Linked DNA regions of Homo sapiens. The protein of the gene in region 1 interacts with the protein of each later gene in a pairwise test. Each region holds a gene or a part of one and is shown in the gene's direction. Other genes may lie near its edges. The genes, in order: PDIK1L, CTDSPL2 and C1orf174.

Region 1 (3,749 bases):
TGTTATGCAATGGTACTTGCCAGTCTGCATAGGAATGGGGCAAGATAGGAACTAGAGAGGTGCTTGAGACTACAGTCTAATAACTTCATTTCTTTGAAATCAATAATTTTGGACTTGAGGACAGAAGAAAAGGAAAAATTCCACAACCAGTAGCAACACCCCTAGGTAATTGGGCATCTCTTTTATAAATCACTGGTTTGAATGTAAGCCTCTGCTGTTTTAGAGGGATATCTGGTTTCTTCACCACGCAGTTCCAGTTAATTTTCATGAAGTACATGATTTAACACCTGAATGTTATTAACAGTGCTAACAGCTAACATTTGAATTTGCATGCAGTTCGATGCTCTGTGCTGAGTGCTTTAAAAGCAGTTGCTCAAAACAATCCTGTGAGGAAAGGACTATTATTATCTTCATTACAAATGAAGAAACTGAGGCTTATAGTATAGATAATGAATTCATCCAAAATCACATACATAGTAAGTGGTACAATTGGGAGCTGGAGCTGAGAATGACAGCTGAAGCTTATGCTTTCTTAACTCCCAGATTACTCTTCTGTAAACCTGGGAAAATGGAAAAGCTTTTCTGTTTTTCTTTTGTTGGCTTCTGCCAGAAATTAAAATCTCTAGTAGCTCTATACTCAAAGAATAGAAAATATATTAAGACATAGCTTGTTAAAGGCTAGGGCAGAATTTCTTAAAGCTAGTCATTCTTGGGCCAGGCACAGTGGCTCACGCCTGTAATCCCAGCACTTTGGGAGGCCAGGACGGGCAGATCACGAGGTCAGGAGATCAAGACCATCCTGGCTAACACGGTGAAACCCCGTCTCTACTAAAAATACAAAAAAATTAGCTGGGCGTAGTGGTGGACGCCTGTAGTCCCAGCTACTGGGGAGGCTGAGGCAGGAGAATGGCGTGAACCGGGGAGGCGGAGCTTGCCGTGAGCCGAGATCGCGCCACTGCACTCCAGCCTGGGCAACTGAGCGAGACTCCGTCAAAAAAAAAAAAACAAAAAGAAACTAGTCATTCTTGGAAAAGAAAACAACTTTCTTTGAGTGTGTCTAAATTCAGAATTTACCATCAGACTTTTACCATTTAAAAGTCTGCTTTTGGGCTGGGCATGGTGGCTCATCACGCCTGTAATCCCAGCACTTTGGGAGGCCGAGGCAGGCGGATCACCTGAGGTCAGGAGTTTGAGACCAGCCTGGCCAACATGGCAAAACCCTGTCTCTACTAAAAAACTACAAAAATTAGCCTGGCATGATAACGTGCAACTGTAGTCCTAACTACTCAGAAGCCTGAGGCCGGAGAATCTCTTGAATCCAGGAGGCAGAGGTTGCAGTGAACCAAGATCGCACCACTGCACTCCAGCCTGGGGGACAGAGCAAGACTCCATCTCAAAAAAAAAAAAAAACTCTGCTTTTGGTCAGGCGTGGTGGCTTACGCCTCTAATCCCAACAATTTAGGAGGGTGAAGCAGGAGGATCACTTCAACCCAGGAGTTCAAGACCAGCCTGGGTAACATAGCAAAACCCCATCTGTACAAAAAAAAAGTGCAAAAATTAGCCAGGCATGGTGGCATGTGCCTTATAGTCCCAGCTACTTGGGAGGCTGAGGTGGGAGGATCACTTGAACCCAGGAGGCAGAGGTTGCAGTGAACTGACATCATGCCACTGCACTGCAGCCTGGGTGACAGCGAGATTCTGTCCCCCAAAACAAAAAAGAAAACAAAACCTCTGTTTTTAAAACAAGAAAAGTTTTGGACTAGGAACAACAAAGAAAACAAATACACGAATGTATGTATTAAGAAACTTGCAAGTTTCCTTGTACGATGAGCAGTATTAGTCTTGAGAACTTAATTTATATTAATTTATATTGCAGTTTAGCACTCTGTGCCCTGAAGTTTTTTGTTTTTTGTTTTTTGTTTTTGAGAAGAAGTTTTTGCTCTTGTCGCCCAGGCTGGAGCGCAGTGGTGCAATCTCGGCTTACTGCCACCTCCGCCTCCCGGGTTCAAGCAGTTCTCCTGCCTCAGCCTCCCGAGTAGCTGGGATTACAGGCAACTGCCACCACGCCCGGCTAATTTTTGTGTATTTAGTAGAGATGAGATTTCACCATGTGGACCAGGCTGGTCTTGAACTTCTGACCTCAGGTGATCCACCCACCTCGGCCTCCCAAAGTGTTGGGATTACAGGCGTGAGCCACTGCGCCCAACCTTTTTTTTTTTTTTTTTTTTTTTTTTTCTTTTTTGAGACAGAGTCTTGCTCTGTCGCTCAGGCTGGAGTGCAGTGGTGCGATCTCGGCTCACTGCAACCTCCGCCTCCCAGGTTCAAGTGATTCTCCTGGCTCAACCTCCTGAGTAGTTGGGACTACAGGTGCCCGTCACCATGCCTGGCTAATTTTTGTATGTTTAGTACAGATGGAGTTTCACCATGTTGGCTAGGCTGGTCTCGAACTCCAGACCTCAAGTGATCCATCTGCTGCAGCCTCCCAAAGTGCTGGGATTACAGGCGTGAGCCACCTCGCCCAGCCAATGCCCTGAAGTTTTCCGTTTTATGACAGTAAAAATAACTAGCCTCTGTGCATTTTATTGTTTGCTTTTCTTAAAGTGCTTATTATGTAAGTTGAATTGATAGAAAATATTGGAAACATTCTTACTATGTTCTCTCTGAAAAGTGAATAGAGGCCAGGCATGATGGTTCACACCTATAATCCTAGCCGAGGCAGGCAGATTGGCTGAGCTCAGGAGTCTGAAACCAGCCTCGGCAACACGGTGAAACTAAAATACAAAAAATTAGCCAGGTGTGGCAGCGTGTGCCTGTAGTCCCAGCTACCCAGGAGACTGAGGCAGGAGAATTGCTTGAACCCGGGAGGCAGAGATTGCAGTGAGCCAAGATCATGTCACTGCACTCCAGCCTGGGTGACAGAACGAGACTCCATCTCCAAAACAAAAACAAAAACAAAAAGTGGATAGAAAGCCAAACATGGTGGCTCACACCTGTAATCCCGGCACTTCGGGAGGCTGAGGCAGGCAGATCACTTGAGGCCAGGAGTTCCAAGACCAGCCTGGGCAACATGGCAAAACCCCATCTCTACGAAAAATACAAAAAGTTAGCTGGGTGTGGTGGCACACACCAGTGGTCCCATCTCCTTGGAAGGCTGAGGTGGGAGGATCACTTGAGCCTTGGAGGCGGAAGTTACAGTGAGCCGAGATTGGGCCACTGCACTCCAGCCTGGGCAAGAGCCAGACCCTGTCTCAAAAAAAAAAAAAAAGTGGATAGAACCTTGCTGAACTTTACATTGAGTTTTAGAGACTAAGAGGCATGATCTATTTTGAACTAGAAAAGCAAAGATATTTAAACAAAAGATTTATTAGCTGAGCATGGTGGCACGCACCTTTAGTCCCAGCTACTCAGGAAGCCGAGGCAGGAGGATTGCTAGAGTCCAGGAGTTCAAGACTGCAGTGAGCCATGATCGCACCACTGCACTCTAGCCTTTATCACAGAGTGGGACCCTGTCTCAAAAATAAACAAATAAACAAACATATTATTTAGTGCTGAGTCCAGATCCAGCAATTGTTATAGTAGCTAGGCATTAGCTCATAAAGTTTTAAGATGTAAAGGCCTACCAGACTTGATTCAGTGATTTTTATATCTAAAGCACCTTTTTGTTTAGTAAATCTCTTTCATCTTTTAAAGCCTGATAGACTTGTGTTTCACTTATGGTATGTTTTGCTAGCTGAATGACCTTGGATAAA
Region 2 (3,749 bases), on another chromosome or scaffold:
AATAAATAAAATAAACTTTAGTAATAATGGGGTAACTGTTTAGTTGGTATTTTACTGCTTTCCATGATACACTCTGGATAAACTAATTATTTGTTGGATTCCATTGAACTTTTCAGGAATCTATTTTTGTGTGTGTGGACTGTTACTATTAATAGTTCTGTGCTGTGTATACCACCAGCTCCCAATAAATGTCGCATTCAGAGCATTTTTGCACTAGGAAGATTTAGGGTGCAAATGAACTCTGACAGAAGAATCTGTAGTATACAAGGTTTTCAGAAGACAACCCACCTGCTCCATACTTCGAAATAATGAGATTCACAACGGTATGTTATTTCTGCTTACTTCTCAGCCTCTCTTGCCATCTTCCCCCTGCCCTCCCATCCTCTTTTCTTAGCGCACAGAACTACTTCTCCAATGGCTCAACACAGTCTCATCTTTGGACTTTTCCGTCTGTTGTTTCCTTTACCCAGACACTCTTCCCCTGCAACACACACTCCTCCTTTTTGTCTCAGATGTTATCTTACGAAACCTTCCCAGACCCCCTCGCCGGCACTCTCATGTGTTTTACAACGCCTATCATGCCATCCTTGTATTCGCTTTATCAGTTTTTAAATTCTGTTTACTTGGGTGTCTTCTTCAATAGATTATGATCTTTGGCCGGGCGCGGTGGCTCACGCCTGTAATACCAGCACTTTGGGAGGCCGAAGCGGGCGGATCACGAGGTCAGGAGTACGAGACCAGCCTGACCAACGTGGTGAAACCCCGTCTCTACTAAAAATACAAAAATTAGCCGGTCGTGGTGGCGCGCGCCTGTAATCCCAGCTTCTCGGGGGGCTGAGGCAGAAGAATCGCTTGAACCCGGGAGGTGGAGGTTTGAGCCGAGATCGCGCCACTGCACTCCATCCTGGGCGACAGAGTGAAGACTCCGTCTCGAAAAAAAAAAAAAATCATTACCTTTGGGGAAGGCAGTATCCGTGTCTGCCTGGCTCACTGTTTTACCCGTCGCACCTAGTTATTTTTTCAATAAATATTTCTTGATTGAATAAGGAGAGTGGCTTGGAGTTTCAGTGAAAAATGTTCTTCCAAACACTAGGCTTGGTTTTCCGATACCCCACTAGAACTGGATTCTCTGGACTGATACATTTTCACTCTGTGGAGCTGACCGTCCTTTGACCTAGGGTCGCAGGTGGGAGCCCACTGGCCTGAAAGATCCGAGTTTTCAACCTGCAGAATCACCGCCAACATAGGGTTGAGTCGAAGGGCATGAATATTTATGATCCAAAAGCGACTGCTACGCCCTCTAGGCAATGAGCTGGAAAGGGAACCTTCAAGGGCCACCGAAATCCCAGGAAAGGCGCCAGATTCGCTTTCTCCCGGCCTCAGGCAGCTCTCCCTACGAACTACCTCCTCCAGCGCGCCAAGCCGTTAGTCCCGCCTTATCCCCTCAGCTCCACCTACCCAGCGCGCCCACAGTTACTAAACCCTAGCCGCCAGGGTGCACTACGCGTTCCTAAGCCCCGCCTCCGGGGCAAGGGCGCGCTCCCCCTCCCAGCTCTGCCCAAGCAGTTCCGTTAGGAGCGGGAGGAAAAACCGTCCTTCGGGTCCCCGCCTCTCCACTCCTAACGCTTTACTCCCTACTCCCCCTGCGACCACTACACAGCCGGCTACGGAGGCCCCTAATGTACAAATATCCCCCAGGCCCTTGCTCATCCTGATAGGTTTTGTCCTTTCTTAATCGACCCAGTACTAAGGCCTTGTGTTCAGTTTTTCTCCAGGATTCAGACTAGAGAGTTTCTTCCGGCGTAAGGAACTTCAACGCTCTTCACGGAAGTAAAAGTGTTTTTTTGGTTGTTGTTGCCGTTGTGGCTGCCCGCATTCCTTCCCTCCCACCTCGCGGAATTGTGGCGGGAGGGGGAGGAGGAAGTCAGGGCGCCTGCGCGGAGAGGCCGCTTTCCATCCGGGTCCCTGTCCGTGCGGTGCAGCAGGTCGGTAGGCGGGAAATGGCGACTGGCTGAAGGAGCTGGTTCTGTTGCTGCTGCGGGGTAAGCGGGAAAGACACCACACATTGCGCAGTCGGGACCATCGCCGGAGCCTGAGGACACTTCTCTGTCGTCACAGTTAGGTAATCCCCTTCGTCCAGACGCCGCCGCTGCTTCCAATCTCAGTCCTCCTCCTCTTCCAGGGCCGTCTGCCGGGATCTCCTCCCCTTCTAAACCTGGTCCTCCAGCGGCTCTGGCGCCTTGGTAGGCATGCACTCTTTGGCGCCTCGTACGTCCACTGTGCGGAGCCGCTCCTGTCTGGACTTTCCCCTGGGAACAGAAAGGGAGCTCACTTCCCGCCAGCTTCACCTCTTAGGTTGCGGCCTGCGTTGTGATTTCTGGGGTTAGATTTCACTTTGCTACCCACCCCCACTCCGATCTCAAGTTCCTAGTCCCCAACCTCTGGGTAATTAAGTTAGAAGTTTAGCTTTTTTTAACCTTTTTGGCCCACCTCATGTTTTCAGCATTTCATTCTTTGGAGTAGGGTGCTTTTAGGGGGGCGTTGCTCTTATCTCAGTTCTTATAAACACCTTTTCAGAATCTGGAAGAAGGGATTTGACTAAGTTCTGTTTATCTTTTGTACTGTTAAAATCTCGAGTTGACATTGTTACTTTTTCAAATCGGGAGTGGTAGTAAAGAACAGTCCATGTGGAAGGCGTCTGGTTTCCACAGTGGTCAGTTAAAGAGTGAACCTTATTATCCTTAATATTCTCTGCTTTCTTTGGATTTTAAATGTCTGTATGGGTGTTTACTTTTGCATTCTTGACCAGAGTTCTGTGGTAAATAATTGCATAAGTAAATCTTGTTTATTTACTTCTCACCCTAGTGGTGGCTGGATGTGTGAATGATGTTAAACACTTCAGCGTACCTTAGGGAAACCTAAAGAGATCTAAGAGCTCGTAAACTTACCTGAGATCCTGAAATGAAACGTACTCAGTAGATGTTCCTCCGAGGCAGGGATTTATCTTCCTAATGCTGGTAACGCAGTACCAAGATGAATTTCTTCAGTGGGTATACAAATTAGTGACTTGAAATGATGGATTTATCTGTGTAATTTTCAAATTGTAGATTGCTTTGTCTCCCCATTCTTCGCCCAGTTTTAAATTTTCGTTCCTGGTCCATTTTTTATTCTTAGAAAAGGGAAATGGCGTGTTAAAGCTAGTTTTACTATATTTCTTTACTTTTTCTTTCCTTTTTTTTAAATTACATTGCAGACCAATTGTTCATAAAGAGAAGTAATAAGGAGGCTGTTGGTGTTTTCGGAATTTATTAATCATGTTGAATTTGGGATCTTTGTAGGTTTTTTTGTTTTCACTAATCAAATTAAAATTTTAAAAACTGTTCACATTGAATATCAGTTGATATTTATAACTCAGGTTTTCAGTTCTGGATAGGTCCAGTTTAGAGAATTTCACTATTGTTTGCACGATGTTATGGTTAATTTTCAATAATAAACAGGAACACACAAACATTATTATAATCCTCATTTGGTAGACTTTGCCCAAGGTCATAAAGAAAGTCAAGGCAAAAGGTAGCTCTTATGTGAAGGAGTTTTTTAGGATTAAGTTGAGCTTCATACTTTCCTAAGGCGAATAGAATAGTGGAGGTACAGGCACGTTAACTACTTGCCGAGTCAGTTTATTTAAAAAATGGAGCCAAATATGCAACTTAAAGGGATCTTAAATCATTGGTCTAGTGTGTAGGTTTTGT
Region 3 (3,749 bases), about 22 Mb from region 1:
TGCCACAGTGTTCAGCCTGTGATGTTGCTGGTGGGGGGTGGCACCCAGCCACTCTGGATGACAGTGGTTTTAGTGAGGTCCTTTTCCTCTTTCCCTGACCACATCCAGCTGTTGAACTTCGCTAATGCCAGGTTATTGTGCTGTTCTCAGCAACAGCCTGGGCATAAGTTGCTCTACAAACTAATCCAATCAAATTGTGGCTTCTTCGAAGGGATACTTTCTAAGGTCAGTGTTTGGTTAGTTTGTTCTGTGTCCAAGAGGCCTCCTCCCAGCCGTGTTAGTCTCTGGTTCTCTTCTGCGAACTGGTTGGCCTACAATTTGGCCTATTGCTTGATTCTCCACTGCCTCCACCCCCTTCGTCACAGCATCCACGGTACTTGAACAGCTCCCTTAGGCCGGAACTTCTCCACATTCCATGGCAGGGAATTTGGTGCCTTTGGGCAGGTGTAAGAGCTGTCTGTTTAGTTGCCTGCCTCTCATCCCAGGCAGAGCCTCTGAGCCAGGGCCTGCAGCTGAGGACAGTAATGGGCTCCTCTCTGAATAGGGGCTGGGGGAGCTAGCAGCAGCCTGAGATCCTCCAAATGTGTCTTCCCCAGCCTGGAACCACCTCATATCTAGGACGGGGTTGATGGGGCCCCAGTCTTCTCCGTTCACTGGGCGGAGCCTCTTGCAGAGGCTTAAACCGTACTGGTAGAATGGAGCCAAGGTGAAGCCTTCATTCTACAAATAGGGTCTGAGCAGAAAGGAGGGCCCCTCTTCTCAATCCTACTCACTCAGGACCTGGTCTCAGTCACAGGTGGGATGAGAGCAGAAAGGGAAGCACTGCTATCCTGCCTCTCCTGGGAAGACACCCCGCTGCCTGGGAGCTGGGGAGGTGGCCCTGTGTTCTTGGCTGCAGCAGGATGGAGCTCAAGTGCCACAGACTCTCCGTGTCCTTACCAAATGTATGTAGGTGTTCTGGAGCAAGTGTTTCTTCATTTGCTGGGTGCCCATAGGACCATTTCCAAAGGCTCTCTAAATGGCTGTTTTGGGACTGCTCATTACTCTCTGAGAAGGTCAGTGAAGCTCCTCGAGCCATCATGTTGAAGTCAGTCTCGGCCAGCCCTTTTGGAGAAACCATGTTTGTGCTTCTGACATACCAGTTATTAAACAATCTACTGGAATGAGGAGAATCTCAATGATGAGAAAGTCTTTCCTTTTTTGGACTGTGGGAGCAGTCCAAGCTGCCCAGCTGCAGAGCAGGAATCTGCAAGTGAGACTGTGACCAATTCTTGACATTTTGGAGTTGACACCTTGGAGGTGGTTAATCCATGACGAAACTGAAGCTAAGCCGATCTCATGTTTTGACTCCTGTCAATCCGGAGAGGACAGCAAATGGCCTGCTCAGGTGTCTGTTAACAGCCAGCGCTTCCAGGCCCACCAGATCCTCAGGTGTCTGTTAACAGCCAGCGCTTCCAGCCCAGCAGATCATCTGGCTTTTCTCTGCAGAAGGGGCCAAAAGGTCCACCTGATGAACCTGTTGCACGCGAAAAGTTCAGAACCACTGCTGCCAAGATGCTGACAGAAGCCTTGAGAAGCACCTGCTGCGGGAAAAGACGTGCAGGCGTAGAACACAGAGCGGGTGGCAGCTTCTTCAGTTCAATCCCCACCTCAGGCAGTTGTTGGGGGTCATATCTAGGGTGAGCTGTGGTGATGGAATAGAGATTTGGAAGCCAGGCATCACTCGTATAACCTCATAAGCTCCTTACCCAAGTTGTCCTCATCTGAAATGGGTGTGCCACTCCTTTAAAGCTGTTCAGGCACCGAGCTGGGCTCCCCACACAGCATACTCCAGCACAGAGCAGCAAAGCGCCCGGAGGAGGGCTCACAGCAGGGAGGAGAGGTGGGGCAGTGGCTTTCTAGGTCAGAGATGTCTTTTCCCTACGAGGCACGTGATGGCGTTTTAGGGAGATGGGCTTGTTTAAGACCCAGTGGGAGGATTTTGATGAGAGATGTTTATGGCAACTCTTAGCAAGTTCTGTAACCTCTGTTGCCTCAGTCCCCTTGGTGTAACTGTGACCATGACGTCTGCCGGGGCTCTCAGCAAAGCCCTGCCCTTGTGAGAGGACGGAGGCGCAGCCCCCGGTGTGCTGTGGTAGCAGGCACTTCACCCAGCCTGTGGGCAACTGGCGTGTCCTGTGTACAGCAGGCGGGCGTCCTGGCCTCCGGTGGGCTGCTGCCTGCTCTTCTCCCTCCTGTTTCAGACACACACTCTGACTGCCACAGTATCACAGGACCTTGGAGCTGCCACCCCACAGGGTTTCTGGAGCTGTCTTGGGCTACGGGGTGCATGGCTGAGACAGATTATTTCTTTTTTTTTTTTTTTTTGAGACGGAGTCTTGCTCTGTCACCCAGGCTGGAGTGCGGTGGCGCAATCTCGGCTCACTGCAAGCTCCGCCTCCTGGGTTCACGCCATTCTCCTGCCTCAGCCTCCCAAGTAGCTGGGACTACAGGCGCCCACCACCACGCCCGGCTAATTTTTTGTATTTTTAGTAGAGACGGGGTTTCACTGTGTTAGCCGGGATGGTCTCGATCTCCTGACCTTGTGATCCACCTGCCTCAGCCTCCCAAAGTGCTGGGATTACAGCCGTGAGCCACCGCGCCCAGCCGAGACAGATTATTTCTGTGTTTTATTTTTTTGTTTTTTTCCTTTTTTTATTTCTCTTATCTGCTGTTGGGCAGGGCACTCTTCATCCGTCCCCTTCTGGGTTCCAGTTCTAGGGCCTGTTGGCAGCAGCTCTTGGGCCTTTCCCGGCCATGTCAACCTGCATTGCTCCTGTTTGTTGCTTCTACTACTCACACTCATTCCTTTCGAGTTTTCTAAGTGCAGTGTGGTATTGTGGACTGGATTCTGGAACAGAAAAACGGTTCATGGAGAAACCGATAAAATACAAATAAAATCTATAGTTTAGTGAAGAGTACCGTAATGTCACTAATTTCTTAATGTTGACAATGTCCTGTAGTTGTTTAACATTAGTGGAAGCTGAGTGAAGGCTACATGGCAACTCCCTGTACTATTTTATTATTATTATTTTTTCAGAGACACTGTCTCACTCTGTCACCCAGGTGGAGTGCAGTGGTGCAGTCATAGCTCACTACAGCCTCAGACTCCTGGGATCAAGTGATCCTCTCACCTCAGCCTCCCACATAGCTGGGACTACAGGTGCACACCACCACACCTGGCTAATTTTTAAAAAAATTTTTTAAAGATGGGCTTTCGCTGTATTGCCCAGGCTGGTCTTGAACTCCTGGGCTCGAGCGATCCTCCTACCTCAGCTTCCCAAGTAGCTGGGATTACAGGTGTGAGCTATCACACCAGTTTCTTTGTACTATTTTTTGCAACTTTCTGAATGCCGAAAATTATTCCTAAATAGTTATTTTAAATGTTATGTCTTTAATTAATTTCTTTCTTGTTATTAGAGGAGTTTGCTTTGCATTCAGGATAAAAGAGAGGTGGACCAGTTTGTTAATATTAAAATTTGTGAGACAGTCGCTAGCTGCATTCAGCTAATAGAATAGGAGTCTAATTTGAGGAAGAGAAACTTTGGTTTCCTCATGTTACCTTTTTTTAAAAACTTTGACAACGTATGAAAGTTGGAGAGCCTTCTAAGGAAGGGCATGTGCTGCTTATTCTAAACACTTTGAAGTTGACTTAATTTCCACTAAAGGACAAATGGTGGCTACTAGAAATATACAAGATAAGGGGGACA

Evidence for each region.
Region 2: the proteins of PDIK1L (region 1) and CTDSPL2 interact in binary tests that used the Homo sapiens proteins (3 or more experiments, as listed by UniProt).
Region 3: the proteins of PDIK1L (region 1) and C1orf174 interact in binary tests that used the Homo sapiens proteins (3 or more experiments, as listed by UniProt).

What each region holds. Positions count from the first base shown.
Region 1 is NC_000001.11:26,114,808-26,118,556, forward strand, and holds part of PDIK1L (serine/threonine-protein kinase PDIK1L), read left to right. Parts: intron 1-3,749.
Region 2 is NC_000015.10:44,425,651-44,429,399, forward strand, and holds the start of CTDSPL2 (CTD small phosphatase-like protein 2), read left to right. Parts: upstream 1-1,978; 5' UTR 1,979-2,122; exon of another isoform or gene 2,123-2,243; intron 2,244-3,749. UniProt on the Homo sapiens protein: Probable phosphatase.
Region 3 is NC_000001.11:3,893,225-3,896,973, reverse strand, and holds part of C1orf174 (UPF0688 protein C1orf174), read left to right. Parts: exon of another isoform or gene 1-1,679; intron 1,680-3,749.